Linked DNA regions of Homo sapiens: region 2 is linked to region 1. Evidence: fine-mapped expression QTL. Tissue or cell type: stomach. Region 1 holds a variant in brackets; the other region holds the start of a gene. All regions are shown on one strand. Distances are between the middles of the regions.

What was found. PIP is the estimated chance that this variant, and not a neighbour inherited with it, causes the effect.
Region 2: IYD starts here. The variant in region 1 is fine-mapped to the expression of IYD in stomach (GTEx, PIP 0.99).

What each region holds. Positions count from the first base shown.
Region 1 is chr6:150,098,696-150,106,868 of GRCh38, reverse strand. No RefSeq gene overlaps it. Among named protein-coding and RNA genes, the nearest start is that of ULBP3, 34 kb to the right of the region's middle. The variant A/G (reference allele first, on the strand shown) is at 3,418.
Region 2 is chr6:150,365,529-150,373,701 of GRCh38, reverse strand. IYD (iodotyrosine deiodinase) reads right to left here and starts at 4,690. Exons shown (of 5, transcript NM_203395.3): 1 at 4,493-4,690. The coding sequence starts at 4,670.

The sequences.
Region 1 (8,173 bases):
TCTTGGGCTGGGTGGGGGACATTTGTGCCCTGGAATACTCCATTCTTGGCATTCAAAAGTGAGCCCTGTTGGGAACTCTTCACATGACTGAAAACTTGTATTCTTTTTTTCTAGTTCAAGCAAATATATTCAGACATCTTACACTATCACTCTATTACTACTAAGAAAAACAAAAACCAAGACTGAAGCCGATGTCTAAAAATTCTCATTCCCGCTCTTGCTGACCAAAATATTGTCCCAAGGAATAACTGTGTGGGGTCACTGTGTCACCATCTGGATTGGACATCTTTTTTTTTTTTTTTTAGACAGAGTCTTGCTCTGTCGCCCAGGCTGGAGTGCAGTGGCGCAATCTCGGCTCACTGCAAGCTCCGCCTCCCGGGTTCACACCATTCTCCTGCCTGACCCTCCCGAGTAGCTGGGACTACAGGCGCCTGCCACCATGCCTGGCTAATTTTTTTGTATTTTTAGTAGAGACGGGGTTTCACCGTGTTAGCCAGGATGGTCTCGATCTCCTGACTTCATGATCCGCCCACCTCGGCCTCCCAAAGTGCTGGGATTACAGGCGTGAGCCCCCGTGCCCGGCCTGGATTTGACATCTCTTATCCGCCACTTTGGGTTTTTTGTTTGTTTGTTTGTTTCTGTTTGTTTGTTGAGACAGAGTCTCGTCCTGTCGCCCAAGTTGGAGTGCAGTGGCATGATCTTGGCTCACTGCAAACCTCTGCTTCCCAGGTTCAGGCAATTCTCCTGCCTCAGCCTCCCGAGTAGCTGGGATGACAGCCACGTGCCACCACACCTGGCTACTTTTTGAATTTTTAGTAAAGATAGAGTTTTGTCATGTTGGCCAGGCTAGTCTCGAATTCCTGGCCTCAGGTGATTTGCCCTTCTTGGCCTCCCAAAGGCTGGGATTACAGTCATGAGCCACGGCGCCCGGCCTTATTCACCACTTTGGATCCTCCAGCCTCCTCTATCTGTTATTTTAGCCTCCATGGGGAGGCTACAAAGGAAAAGTCTCTAGTAGGCCAATTCAAAGATTTACCTGTATTTGGAACATTTTATAGAAAAAGAAGACATCTATTGTTAGACTACTAAAAAAAAAATGTTTGGTTAAACAAAGGTCTCCAGTCTCTCCCCATCTCTACTAAAAAAAAATACAAAAAAAATTAGCTGGGCATGGTGGCAGGTGCCTGTAGTCCCAGCTACTGGGGAGGCTGAGGCAGGAGAATGGTGTGAACCCGGGAGGTGGAGCTTGCAGTGAGCCCAGATCGCGCCACTGCACTCCAGCCTGGGCGACAGAATGAGACTCCGTCTCAAAAGAAAAAAAAAGAAATAATACCTACCTTTACTAAGTCCAAAGAGTTTGAATTTTTCTCTTATTTTCTATTTCTTAATTATTATTATTATTATTTTACTTAGAATACACTAATGATCCCCAAACTGCAGTATGACAAAAAAATCCTGCTGTGGACTATTCTGTTTGTGTCCCATAGGTAAAAATAATGCCTGAGACTGCACTTTATAATATCATTTACTTATAAGAATAATGTCATTTGAAATTAACATTATCCTTTAAGTTTGGAGGCTTTATTTTAAATGTTTGATGTTTCTCATTATGTGTCAAAGTCACGTTTTCTATGAAACACATCTGACGTTTTATAAAGATAAATTTTTAAAGAAAGGAAAGTTCATAGCCAATTTATTTTTAGCTGCTGAAAAACAGAAATAGCCCAAATGTCCATCCACAGTGGAATGGCTAGGACAGGTAATAGAACCGTGATATAGTCACACAAAGGGATACTCCTTGCCATTTTACAAAAGAACAAACCACTGATACACACAACTGGGATGACTCTCATAGTTATTATGAGAACAAAAGAAGCTGGACACACTGCACAATGCTATTTTTATGGAGTTAAAGAACAGGCAGGCCAGGCATGGTGGCTCCCGCCTGTAATCCCAGCACTTGGGGAGGCCGAAGCGGGTGGATCACCTGAGGTCGGGAGTTCGAGACCAGCCTGACTAACATGGAGAAACCCCATCTCTACTAAAAATAAAAAATTAGCCGGGCATGGTGGCGCCTGCCTGTAATCCCAGCTACTCGGGAGGCTGAGGCAGGAGAATCCCTTGAACCTGGGAGGCGGAGTTTGTAGTAAGCTGAGATTGCACCATTGCACTCTAGCCTGGGCAACAAGAGCGAAACTCCACCTCAAAAACCAAACCAAACCAAAACAAAACAAAACAAAAACACAAAAAGAACAGGCAAAAACAAATCAACGGTGGGAGAAGGCAAAGTAGTGGTTACCTCTGAAGGGGAAGGCTGTTAGCTATGACGGGTCAGGAAGGAGCCTTCTGTGTGCTGGAAACATTGATTTTTCTTTTTTCAGCTTTATTAAGGTTTACTGAACAAATAAAACTTATATATATTCTGGTGTACAACATTATGCTTTGCAACATGTATATGCAATAAAGTAATTAAATCAAGCTGATTGACACAACCATAAGCTCACTGACTTATTTTTTTATGGAGAGAGCATTTAAGATCTACTCTTAGCAATTTTCTGGAATATAATACACTATTTTTAACTACAGTCACCATGCTATACAATAGATCTGCAGAACTTATTCATCCTGTCTCACTGAAACTTGGACCAGTATCTCCCCATATCCTCGTTCTACAGACCCCGATAACCAACATTCTCCTCTCTGTTTCCATGAGTTCAACTCTTTTAGATTCTACATATAAGTGAGATTATGCAGTATTTGTCTTTCAGTGCCAAGCTTATTTCACTTAGCATAATGTTCTCCAGGCTCATGCATGTCACTGCAAATGACAGGATTACCTTCTTTTTTTAAGGGTGAATAATATTCATTAGATATATGTAACTATATATATGTATGACATTTTCTTTTTTTTTTTTTTCCCGAGATGGAGTTTCGCTCTTGCTGCCCAGGCTGGAGTGTGCAATGGTGTGATCTCTGCTCACCACAACCTCTGCTTCCTGGGTTCAAGTGATTCTTCTGCCTCAGCTTCCCAAGTAGCTGGGATTACAGGCATGCGCCACCATGCCAGGCTGATTTTGTATTTTTAGTAGAGACGGTGTTTCTCCATGTTGTTCAGGCTGGTCTCGAACTCCTGACCTCAGGTGATCCACCCGACATTTTCTTTACCCATTTGTCTGTTGATTGCATACATGGGCTATTGCAAATAATGCTGCAATGAACATGAGAGTGCAAATATCTCTTCCACGTACTGATTTCATTTCCTTTGTATCTATATGTAGAAGAGAAATTACTGGATCATATAGCTGTTCTATTTTTAATTTTTTGAGGAATCTCCATACTGTTTTCCATAATGACTGTACTAATTTGCCAACAGTGTACAAGTGTTTTCTTTTCTCCACATCTTTGCTGACACTTGTT[A/G]TCAAAAGAGTCTTTTTGATTATAGCCATTCTCACAAGTGTGAAGTGATATCTCATTGTGGTTTTGATTTGCATTTCCCTGATAACTAGTGATGCTGAACATTTTTCCTTAAAACTATTGCCTCTATATGTTTTCTTTTGAGAAATGTCTATTCAGGTCCTTTGCCCATTTTAAAATTGAGTTGTTTTCTTACCATTGAGTTGTTTGAGTTTCTTATATATTTTCTATATTAACTCTTTATCAAATGTATGGTTTGCAGATATTTTCTCCCATTCCATAGGTTGTCTTTTCACTGTATTAAATTGTTTCTTTTGTTGTGCAGAAGCTTTTTAGTTTCATAAAATCCCATTTTTTGTTTTTGTTGCCTGTGCTTTTGGTTCACATGCAAAAATTCTTTGCAAAGACCAAGGTTGGGAAGACTTCCCCCTATGTTTTCTTCTAGTAGTTTTACGGTTTCAGATCTTTTGTGGTTCCATGTGAGTTTTAGAATCATTTTTTCTATTTCTGTGAAAAAGTCATTGGAATTTGGATAGGAATTGCATTGAATCTGTAGGTCATTTTGGGTAGTATGAGCATTTTAACATTATTGATTTTTTCCAGTTCATGAACACAGTGTAGCTTTGCGTTTATTTCTATCTTCTTCGATTTATTTTATCAATGTAAAACGTGATATAGTTTTCAATGAACAGATTTTTTTCTTCTTGGTTAAATTTATTTCTAAGTATTTTTATGCCATTGTAAATGAGATTGTTTCCTTAATTTCTTTTTCAGATAGTTTGTTGTTAACGTATAGAAACGCTACTGATTTTCATAGGTTGATTTTGTATTCTGCAACTTTATGGAATTTATCATTTCTAACAGTTTTTTATTGAAGTCATTAGGGTTTTCTATGTATAAAATCATGTCATCTGCAAAGACAATTTAATGTCTTCCTTGGACACACTTACTTTAAATCCTGGTGGTGGTTACATGTAGATAAAAATGTGTAAAAATGTGTACTTTTGTATGTCATATTGCCAAAAAAGGAAACAAAAACAATGTTCTGATTAGATACCCATTTTAAAGGCCACTTTTGAGGAGTGAATTTATGATAAACTCAAGTTTCTTTGATAGCATCTTACATTTTCTAATGCTGTGTACCTTTGCAACATACCTTTTCATATGGTACAGCCATAAAACCTTGATCATTGTTGCTTCCTCTCATTTCAGTGTCACGATAACTCTGGTGGTGTGGGCTGGCATCATTATTTTCATTTTATAAATAAGCAAATTGCAGCTCAAAAAGATTAAGAGACTTATTCAAAGTTATACAGCTGATTCATTACCAAGTCAGAGCCATAACTCAGATCTCCTGAATCCAGTGAAATAATCATTTCATAACAATCAGCACCACCCCTTTACCTAAGAATGGCTCCCAGGAAGAAGTTCATTGTGATTTCCCTTTGGTTGCTCCTGGAATTTAAGTGATGGCTGAAAATTACCTGGTAACAATCAATACATATGCCACATATCGTGCACATACGACGTGCAGTGTTTCCCATTGTCACAGTGGGTTTATTTCTCTCAACAAAATTATGGATAGAAATATCTATCCCCATCTTACATTTGTAATAGCTAAGACTTAGAGTGACTGGATAACTTGCCCAAGGTCACACAACAAGGAAATGGGAGGCCTGGGATGATTTAAACCCAGATTGTCCTGACTTCAAAGTCTGTGTGTTTAAACAGTAATGGTCTCGCTTCTCGAGCAAGTTTTAACAGAAAGCGATTTTCCTTAAGTGCAAGCAACCATGTCCCATCTCCAACATGTTTGTGGAGCCCCAGTCCTTCAGCCTGAGGACTTGCTGCAACATAGTAGCATCTGCCATATTTAGTTCCCAGGAGAGAAAATTCCTCACTTGCACCACAAAGATGTTAATGGGGTTGGGAGGAACACAGAACTTGAGGTGACACTCTTGTCAACATTTAAGTAACCTTAAACCTGTTTATTTATGCAAAATTAGAGAAAAATTATGCTTCTGTATTAGTAGTACCAGTTAGAGTGTTAAATCTAAATGTTACCTCCATAAAAAAAGTTATGCGTTAGAAACCGGATCTACACCTTAGGACCAAGCTTTTCAAAACCGGTCTCTTCACTTAGCAGTTCACATATCATCTCCCTGCCTTCTATGGTACACCAGGCTGAGGTCTCCCCACAGCTCTCTGTGACATGTTGCTGAGACGGAGAAAAGCTATTGGCAGCAGGAGCTGGCCTGGTACTCACAGCTAAGCCCTGATGTTCTGTGGGACATAATCTCATAGAACATCAACACCAGACAACAAGCACCAGCCCCACTCAGGATGGAGGAAGACGAAGACAAGACCTCCCATAATCATTGCAAGGCTCTTGTATCGGTTCGAACCCCAAGAGCACGCCAACAAACAGCACAAGGCGGTGTGGAGCAACACGCTGTTTTAATGAGCGCCTGGGTGCAGACAGGCTGAGGCCTAAAACGGCGTCAGCACCAAATGAGGATGGGGCAGGGGTTTTATAGTCTCCTGTAAACAGGACGTGTCTCAGTCTGATGTAACTGCTACGCAGTACCCGGACGGCCTCTCTCTCGGTCTTCAGGGGGTACGTGTCTTCCAGCCAGCTCTCTTCCTGCTTCTGCTATCCTGCTGACGCACGCTGCTGGCGCAGGTGGTCTTGCGCTTTGGGACTGGCCCTGAGAATGGAGGAGTTATTCACCCACCACCCCCAGCTTCCAGGCCCCGGGGAAAGTCTTTCATTCCTGTCTATTTCGTTACAGAAAAAGGGAAAAGGGACGACTTTTTCAATAACTGCTTCAAGCGTGACATGGGGTGACGTGGGCACCTTGGAAACAAAGAAAAACTGAATTTTGGGGATATTCTTGAGAGACGGGTTGGTATTCGTCGTGTCGTTGTAGCAGGAGCATCGTCTGGATTGTCTGGCGGTTAACTGTAGTTTCAACAAGACTTTTCATAGCTTTTATTATTAGTGGGATAATACAGGGAGAAACAGGAGGAACCCAATGATGAAGATTGCTGTCCCTACCAGCGTTCTAAATCCTCCTAAATTAGAGAACCACTCTCTAGAAGGTTTGTTGGGTCCCATCCCTTCCAGGTTTGGACTGGTCCATGGGCTACTTTTCTGGTGTTTGAAGCGATTTCTAGTACTGCTTTTCTGTTATCGTCTATGTTAAGACAACAATTGGAGATATTAAACTTACCACAGACCCCACCTTCTTCTGCTGATAAGTAGTCTGGTGCTGGCCTGTTTTGATAAATTGCCGGGGGTATTTGGTTTTGTTGTTGCGCAAGCGTTTCCAGGGCTGAAGCAGTTTGGTTAGTGATTATCTCTAGAATCGCCTGTAGTCTAATTATTCTATTTCGAATATATATGGGAGGTGATAACCCCATGAACCATCCTCAGCCCAAGTGGCAGGACCATAATATTCGATGATCCGTTGCAGAAGTCATTCGTCCCGTTGCCATCTTTGGCTTCCTCCTACCTTTAAGGATCTTTTTGTTGTTGTTGTTGTTTACGTTATTGTATACAGGGACTCTGAGGGTGTTGCCCGCTGTTAATGTTTTGGAGGAAGGAGTAGCCTTGGGGGTGAGATTGACCCTGGTACGATGGATCCAGCAGGGGAGTCCTTGGACTCTCACTGCAGTTGGTGTGCTGAGTATCACAGTGTAGGGGCCTGTCCACTTCGGCTGTAGGTTGTTGTGACGGTCGGGTTGGCAGATAAACACGTCTGTGCCTGCAAGACAGTTATGTTGAGAGGACAAAGAGGTGTTGACAGGAAGGGGCATGGCCTCATCTGCTGCTTCATGAATGAAAGACCGTGTCTGGATTAAGAAAGGGAGGTAATTCCTGAGTGGCTCAGTGTCTGGTAAGATGGAGGCCCCAAGACAAAAGTTTGGTCATACATGATTTCGAAGGGACTATAAAAAGAGGGTGACTTTGGTGTTGTGCAGAGTCTCATGAGGGCAAAAGGGAGATTTTTTCCTCCACGCCTGGTGGGTTTCTAGAGCCAGCTTGGTAAGTTGGGCTTTAAGGACAGAGTTAACTTTTTCAACTTTGCCGGAAGATTGAGGCCAGTAGGGTGTGTGGAGAACCCATTTTATACCTAAGGATGTAGAGACACCTTGGGTAATTTGGCTGATGAAGGTGGGCCCGTTGTTGGACTGGATGGATGTTGGGAGTCCGAAACAGGGAATTATATGCATGATGAGAGTTTGTGTGACGACATTTGCACCTTCTGAAGTTGTTGGGAACGCTTCTACCCACCCAGAAAACGTACAAAGATTAGAAGACAGTGGAACTGTGTATCAGGCGGCATGTGAGTGAAGTCTACTTGCCAATCTTGCCCGGGTACCCAGTCCTGGGCTTGGTGGGTAGGAAAAGGCAGTGGCCAGAGGGAGCCCTGGGGTGACACTGAGTGGCAGATAGAGCAGGACTGGGTGATTTCTTGAACGTGGCTGGAAAGGTGAGAACGAGTGAGAATAAGGCGGAGAAATTGTAAGAGAGGTTTGTAACCGACATGGATTGAGTTGTGGAGACTTTGGAGGATAGGGATTGTTTGAGAGTGAGGAAGAACAAAGCGCCCTTCCTTGACATACCATAGTCCTTGCTTTTGAAGGTTTTGGGCTCGGAAGTCCTCCTTTCCTCCTGAGGAATAAAGAGAAGAGAACAAGGACAGGGACAGAAACTGGCCTTGCATGGGTTGTAGGGCTAGTTTGGCCACCTGAT
Region 2 (8,173 bases), 270 kb before region 1:
GGGGTGGAAGGGAGAAAGCACTGATTCATAGCACTTGCCAGTATCCACTGATGTAAATAATCACACCATGGCGTGACTTCAAGCCACTAATGATTTAACAAAAAACTCCTAAATATTTAACAGTTGGCTCCTGCTAATCCCCAGAGACTCGCCCTAGTATGCTACTTGGTTGGGGAGCATGAAGTTCAGGCACTGGTGGACTTTCAGAGCTGCAAGTGGCACACATCATTTGTAGGATCAGTGTCATTTGGTTGAGACTCTGACACTCAGAGGAGCTGGCCCTGGAGTGAGTGCACCCCTGGTTGGCTGGCTTTCAGAAGCATGAGGCTGACACTGATTGGTTAGCTTGCCAAGTTTATTCTGAAATGAGTTGTCATTGATTCACTGCTCAGGCTTGGAACCAGTTTTGAAAGCTACTTGTTATTATGGGCACATAACAATCTGTTTCTCAAGTTTGTAGGAACATTTTTGTTCTCAGATGTTACTCACACTGGATAAAAAATTTTAACTCAGGCCTTTCTTAGAAAAGACTGGACAAGTTGGGTCACTTATTATTCAGCTAGTGACTTCAGTTAGAATAATAGCTTTTGGATGGCCAGTGAAGCTAAGTGCAGAAGAATCCCCCACTAACACTAAAACAGATTCATCTTGATGAGATGTGTTTCCTATCTTTTTCTTCTTTTCCCATTTCTATGGACTTCTATGAATCTGAGCCTAACTAGAGGATTTGTGGGTAGGATTTTCAGTTCACTTTACTGGGACAATCTGAGACTTATTTCTTTGAGATAAACTTCAGCAACTCTTCTTTCTTGGACCCTAACTGTAGACAAACAAGGTATTAACAGGACACCAACCTTGGCTGGTTTGCAAAGGGAGACTGTACCCTACATCTAATAAGCATGGTCACACAATGTTCCCTCACCACCCCCACCCCACCCACACACACATACACATGTATAACAAGCATGGTCACACAATGTTCCCTCACCACCCCCAACACACCCCCACACACACATGTCTAATAAGCATGGACACACAATGTTCCCTCACCACCCCCACCCCACCCATACACACACATGTCTAACAAGCATGGACCAACACAATGTTCCCTCACCACCCCCCACACCGCCCACACACACACATGTCTAATAAGCATGGACACAACATGACCCCTCAGCACTCCCCACCCCACCCCCCCACACACATGTCTAATAAGCATGGACACACAATGTTCCCTCACCACCCCCCACCCCACCCACACACACACATGTCTAATAAGCATGGACACAACATGACCCCTCAGCACTCCCCACCCCACCCCCACACACACATGTCTAATAAGCATGGACACACAATGTTCCCTCACCACCCCCCACCCCACCCACACACACATGTCTAATAAGCATGGTCACACAATGACCCCTCACCACCCCACAACCCACCCACACACACACATGCCGATTCTCTGACCTGTGAACATGCAGTAGGAATTCTTTGTGAATCAGAGCTGCAGGAGGTTGGATGGGTACCCATATTTTCCTTAACTCATGCTAGAATGGCCTACAATACTTATTTTACCATTTAATACCTTGTTAATATTAAAAATGGTTTCAATCTGGTATCTATTTGCAGTCAACAACACCAACTCCATGTGTCTTCAGTAAAGGAGTCCGTTCTCTTCTCCAGTTAGCTCCTGCTCAATCCCTTCTGGACCTAGAGTAATATCCCCACGTAGATCATGTCCAACCACCCTGTGACTGAGAGCAGGGACTTGGGGGGCTGAGAAGCCTGAGTTTAAGCATTGGTTCTCACTGGTCACCTGTGTGACCTTGGCATGCACCACTTATGTAAACAACATAAGAGATGTGGAGTAAATCATTTCATCTTCATGACAATACAATGAGGTAGGCCCTATTAGAATCCCCATACAAGAGATCTGTGGACACCACACTCAGGGCAGACTTTGTCCCAGCTGCTAAGGACGACACTAAGGCTGTCCTGTTCATTCCTCTGTATAAAGATAAGACAAGGATGAGGATGGCAGGGAACAGAGAATGAAGAGGCAAAGCATTTTGCAAAAGTAAGTGATCAGGCAGAGAGCCAGAGAAAGGCCCTCCAGTTCTGCTCTATGTTCCCAGCCTCCAGGCCCAGCCCCAGGACCTGACCCTCAACAGCCTGCCCGAGCTCTCCTGTGTCCTCAAACCTCTTGGGTCTTCAAATCCAGTGGCCTTTCCTTGATGCACACTCTTTCTGGTCTCTCAGAGAATGTTGGTCCCTGCTGGCTATCTCCTGCCTCCTCCATTCTAGGTCATTCTCCCAGGGGAGAGGCAGCCCAGCAAACAGCTGGCTTGGGTCCTATCTCTGCAATCACCTTCCTGAGCTTACCCTATTGGGGCCTCAATTTCCTTATCTGTAATATGGGGATTCTAATAGTGCCTACCTCATTGTACTGTCATGAAGATGAAATGATTTACTACACATAATATGTGGCTGTGATTGCATACATTAAGAGCTATTAATATATAAGGGCTTGTTACTGTTATGATCCCAGAGCCCCCTTTCCCACAGCTCCTCCCTTTCTCTAGTACATTTTTCTTCCACAGTTCCTCTTAACCGCATGTGTCCCTCAAGTTCTATCCTCAGCCTTCTCTCTAGCAATGCCCACTTTGTGGATTCATTATTTCTCCAGGTTCCAAGTATCTTCCCCATACTGGTGACTCTCCAGTCAGTATCTGTGGCCTGGGCCCCTAACATAGACTGCTGTCTCCCTTTTCTGCTCAGGTGTGTCACTGTCGTCTGAAATCAAACATGTCCTCGATGGAACTCAACATCTTCCCCTTTAAGCTGGATCCTCATTCCCTCACCCACTTATGATAGCTTCCAGTCTCCAACTCTCCCTCTCTCCTCCTTTTCCCAATATCCAATTTACTAGCAAACCCTGTTGCTCTTCCATTAACTTTACTCTGATCCACGCCTTCCACTGCATTCCCACCTGCCCCCACCATCCAGGCCATCCTTACCAGCACAAACCATTACCCAGCTTCACAGCAGATGTTCCCTGGATTAAGGGAAGTGCTTCTCCGCTGGGTAGAATTGACGTTCTGAGTGGAAGAGGTTTCAATGTAGGAGAGCAAGAGGCAGCCCTGCTGAGAGGCTAGACTCCTGTACGGTGCAGTCAGCACTACAGGCTGTTAGCACTGAGAGCCAGCTGGACACCCTGCGCCCCGGTCCTGAGATTAGGACACACACTCATGCACACACTCTCTCACAAACACACTCATGCGCACGCACACACACATTCATGCATGCACACACAAACTCATGCATGCTCACACACACTCATGCACACACGTGCACACTCACACGCACACTCACCCACTCGTGCACACACACTCATGCACACACACTCACACATGCACATTAATGAACACTCACATGCACGCGCACACACATCCACTCTCATGCACACACACACACGCACGCGCACACACACATGCACATTCATAAACACACACTCTCACACACATACACTCACACACACTCACATGTCCAGGTGGCCTCTGTTTGGGGATGGGGGCATCATTAGCCCAGCTGAAGATCACAGAGCCTCTTCCAAATCGAACCCATCCCAGACAAAGCTTCTCAAACACAGATGGCTCAAGCTTCCTCCACGCTCTCTCCCTTCCTACCTGCCTCCTTCATCACCTCTTCTTCTCAAGGTGGCCATAACCTTCCCGCCCTCAATTCTCTACTTCCATTCTTACCCTCTCCCTCCACCCTCAATTCTCCACTTCCTCTCTTACCCCTGCCCCAGGCCTCCAGGTGCTTCTGCTCCTTTGGCTCCTTGTTGCCTGACAGGCCTCCCAGCACTTGCTATTTGTACCCTATTCATCCTCCCAGCCTGGTTTGTCCTTTCCCTGACTGCACCGTCAAACTCCCAGGCCTACTCTAAACACCTTAGAATCAGTTCCACCGGGTCTGTCTCTTTGTTACTCTCTCTGATTCTAGTGTATCATCTTGGCAGCTGAACTGGACATTCAGTTTGTTGAGGACAGAGGCCATCCCAGGCTTTCACTTCCAGGGCCTGGCACAGGGAAAGGTAGCAGCCTCCTAGGTGATGCCACTTGGTAGATTTCAAAGTTCCTGATCAAAACCTGGCCTCTTAGTCCCTGCCCACTGCCAGCCTGGGATGAATTCCTGCAGAAAGATTTTAACAACCAGAACAGAATTGTAGCCAGGGAAAACTTCAGCCTCTCAACAGCTTTTTCACTGGGCATCAAAAATAAAAAAGGGTTGGTCCCAGCAGGTGACAAGCTCATCACTGGAGAGAGATGACCTGTCTGTGCCAAGCACTGATTCATTAGCACAATAGAGGTTGATGTTGAAGCTGGCCTGTGTGTGTTTCTTCCTCTCCATAAGCCCTGCCATTGACTCACACTCATCATCAACACAACACGACAGCGAAGCTAAGCAGCATAGCTGGTGTCTTTACCTTCTTCTGCTTGGTGCAGGTCACTGCTGTCTTTTAAGTCTTCATCCACCCAGGGGCGAGCTTCGGCCCTGGTTCTAGGCTCCCCCTTCTTTTTCTCCATGCTTCTGTCGGCATTTTTAAAGATCCACACAACCAAAATGCAGAGAATGGCTACCAAGATGGGAGTCAGGAAATACATGGTCTGGAGTCTGACGTCACAGGCGTGCACACTTCCCACACCGGTTTTTAAACACACAGAGACAGGAGTGGAGAATGCCGGGAGATAGAAGGAATGCAGACACAGGTGTGCCAGGGAAGGAACAAAGTGCAGAACTCTTCAACTCTGTGAGGACTTTGCAAAGGAGCAAAGATCACAGTCACATGTGTGGGGTGTTGTGGCTTTGGTTATACACCAGTCCATTAACTTTTTAAAAGTATGTACTCTGTCGATATATTCTTAGACAACAATTGCCAGAATCTGAGTAAGAACTTGCATGTGCTAGATCTAGCTAGATCACCTGAAGAACTTGTTTTTGTTTTTGTTTTTTTTAAATAGATTTCCACACACCAACTCAGATCTGCTGGAAGAAAATGTTCAGGAAAGAGGTTTGGCACCATGCATTTTAAATGGCATATTTGTGAAAACAGCCCTAGGGTTTTGATTTTTTTTTTATGATACCTGAGCCAATATATGGAGTAAAGAGAATATCATGTTTTGCATCAGAGAAAAACTTTGATCCAGGAAAAGTGACACAAAAAATTAAAGTGACAACTTGATTATGTAATTACTTCAGTAGGGCTTTTTATGTGTTAGTTTGTCTGTCTGTTTTAGAAAGTGCCTTAGTCAGTTATGGCTGAAATAACAAAAATACTATGGACCGGGTGGCTTAAACAATATAAATTTATTTCTCAGCCAGGTATGGTGGCTCATGCCTATAATCCCGGCACTTTGGGAGGCTGAGAGGGGCAGATCACTTGAGGTCAGGAGTTCGAGACCAGCCTGGCCAACATGATGAAACCCCATCTCTACTAAAAATACAAAAATTAGTTGGGCCTGGTGGTACATGCCTGCAAACACAGCTACTCAGGAGGCTGAGGCAGGAAAATAGCTCCACCCAGGAGGTGGAGGTTGCAGTGAGCCGAAATTGTGCCATTGCACTCCAGCCTGGGCGACAAGAGTGAAAGTTCCTCTAAAAAAAAAAAAAGAAAGAAAGAAGAAGAAGAAGAAAAAGAAAAGAAAAGAAAGAAAGAAAGAAAGAAAGAAAGAAAGAAAGAAAGAAAGAAAGAAAGAAATTTATTTATCATTTATTTATCATAGTTCTGGAGGTTGAGAAGTCCATAATTAAGGTGCTGGCAAATCAGCTCCTGGTGAGGGCTCCCCTCCTGGTTTGCCAACAGGTGCCTTCTTGCTGTAACCTCACACAGTGGATGGTGGAAACAGATCATCTCTATCATCTTTTTTCTTATAAGGCCACTAATCTCATTAATGAGGGCTCCACTCTCATCACCTGTTCACCTCCCAAAGGCCCAACCTCCAAATACCATTGTACTGGGGCTTAGGGCTCCAACACATGAATTTTGCCAAGACATATTCAGTCTTTAGCATCAAGGTGCAAACGTATGTATAACATGATGCCATTTGAATAAAACAGAGTGGAAAATATGATACATTTATACAAACTTATATATGTATTTCCTGGAAAAGCATACTCTAAGGAGCGGTTATATCAGGAATTCTCTTTATTAATTTTGCAATTTCTTGTGAGTCTATATTATTTCAAAATAAACAGTGAAAAAAACAGTGGTTACTTGTTTTGGAGGGAGTGTGGAAACTGGATAGATGGGGGACAAGGGTGAGAGAATTTCTACTGAATACTATTCCATAATTTAAGTATTTTGAGCTGTTGTAAATATATTATCTATTTAAAAAATTGAATATGTGTTATTTATTTCAATACTCATTTTGATGGTTTTATTGTATCATATATTGTAATACTCCTTTTTGTGATAGACAGTTGTTTTTTAAGATGTATATCATATTGGTTCTCTAACTCCAGAGAACTCTGTAGAAGATAATAAACAAAGTTTATTATGGAAGCACTGGCCTCCACAGACCATTGAATTTGGTGGTGCTGCCTGCCATGCCGACAGCTTTTGTACAGGAAAGTGCCCTCCCTGTGCCTGCTGAAAGGGTGTCAGAGGGGACATGTCCAGTCCATGTGATCCAACCCCACGCAGGCAGCTGAAAATGGCAGAGCCTGTGTTGGGGCCCAGCTTCTCTTTACATCCCACTAAAAACACAGAATAAAGAAACCACTCCATAGCAAGAGAAGAGCAAGACAAATGTGCAGAGAGAAGCAAGGCCTGCAAGGCAGCAATGCCTCACAGCTCAGGGGAAGGACAAGGTGAGGGCCATGGGTGGCAACTGCCTCTGCTCCTAGGAGGTCCCAGGCCTGCCTCGGTTTCAGCCCATGTGTCTCCTTACCTTCGAAGAATCAGAAAGATCCTCGGTGCCTGTAACTACAAAAGCACAATTCATATCAGTGTCAGGAACAGGATTAAGCCCAGGAAAAATGGGGTGGTGGGAATTGGTTTTAGTGCACTAGTGGGTGAAGTCTGGGAGGCACCCCCATCTCAGAAGGGAATGCTAACAGCTGTGGCATGCAGCAGCTGGCTGGCTAATTGAGTATTGCCTGAGTCTCTTGGGTTTCAGACCATGTGCCCAGCAGAATGAGTCTGTAGGGGATTCTGAAGCCACTGAGAGCCCCGGAGGAGCTGAAACATAAGGACAACCATGCCAGAAGGCAGCTTTCCATCATGTTTGGTGACTTGCAATGGGAAAGAAAAGATTCTTGCTCTGAATTGCTTGGTTCAAGATAGAGAAGAAAAGCAAAATGACCATGCATTCCTTCATTCATTCATTCACTCATTCATTCAAAATATATTTTTTGGGATCCATGCAAAAGGCATTGCATTTGGGGCCAGAAATAGAACGGAGGGCAGTAGGGGCTGCACATGCTCATGGAGGCAGGAGCCACAGAGAGACAAGCGGATCGAATCTCATATACTAATGCCACATTCCAACTTCCCTAAGAGCTGCTAGGGAGCTGACTGGAGTGTGACTGGGCTGAGTTGGTGAAATCAGAGGCTTCCCAGAGGAAGGAATGGCTGAGTTGAGGTCGGAGCTGTGAGTGGGAATCAGTCATGGGGCAGGAGAGAGCCTTCCAGGCAGAGGTCATGGTGTGCAGCAGGATAATTAAGGCATCAGAGATGGGTTGAGGAGGAATTATTTAATTATTTAGGTGCACTGACCCAGTCAGATTAACATCCAAAAGACTGAGCCCCCAACAAAGAGTCAAGCTACCTTTTAAGCATTTTGTGGGGTGGGGGGAGATTTGTGCAGGGGGAAGTGTATTACAGAAACGAGAAACAAAGACAGTTATTCAATTAAGACATGCATTACATTATTTCTTACTTTTCAAGGAACAGCATGTTTTGTGACTTGAGATTATCTGTCTAGTGACCTTGCAGCTGCACAGCTAGAGAAACAGGGTCTTCACAATGCCTGGGAAAGGGGGAGATAAGGCTCACTAGCCTCAGAAAAACAGGCAGTCAATTTTTAAAGGATTTCAGCTCTTTCTCTTCCTCAGGGGGAATTGGTTTTTCTTACATACAATTGAGTTTTGCTTACACATTTTTAAA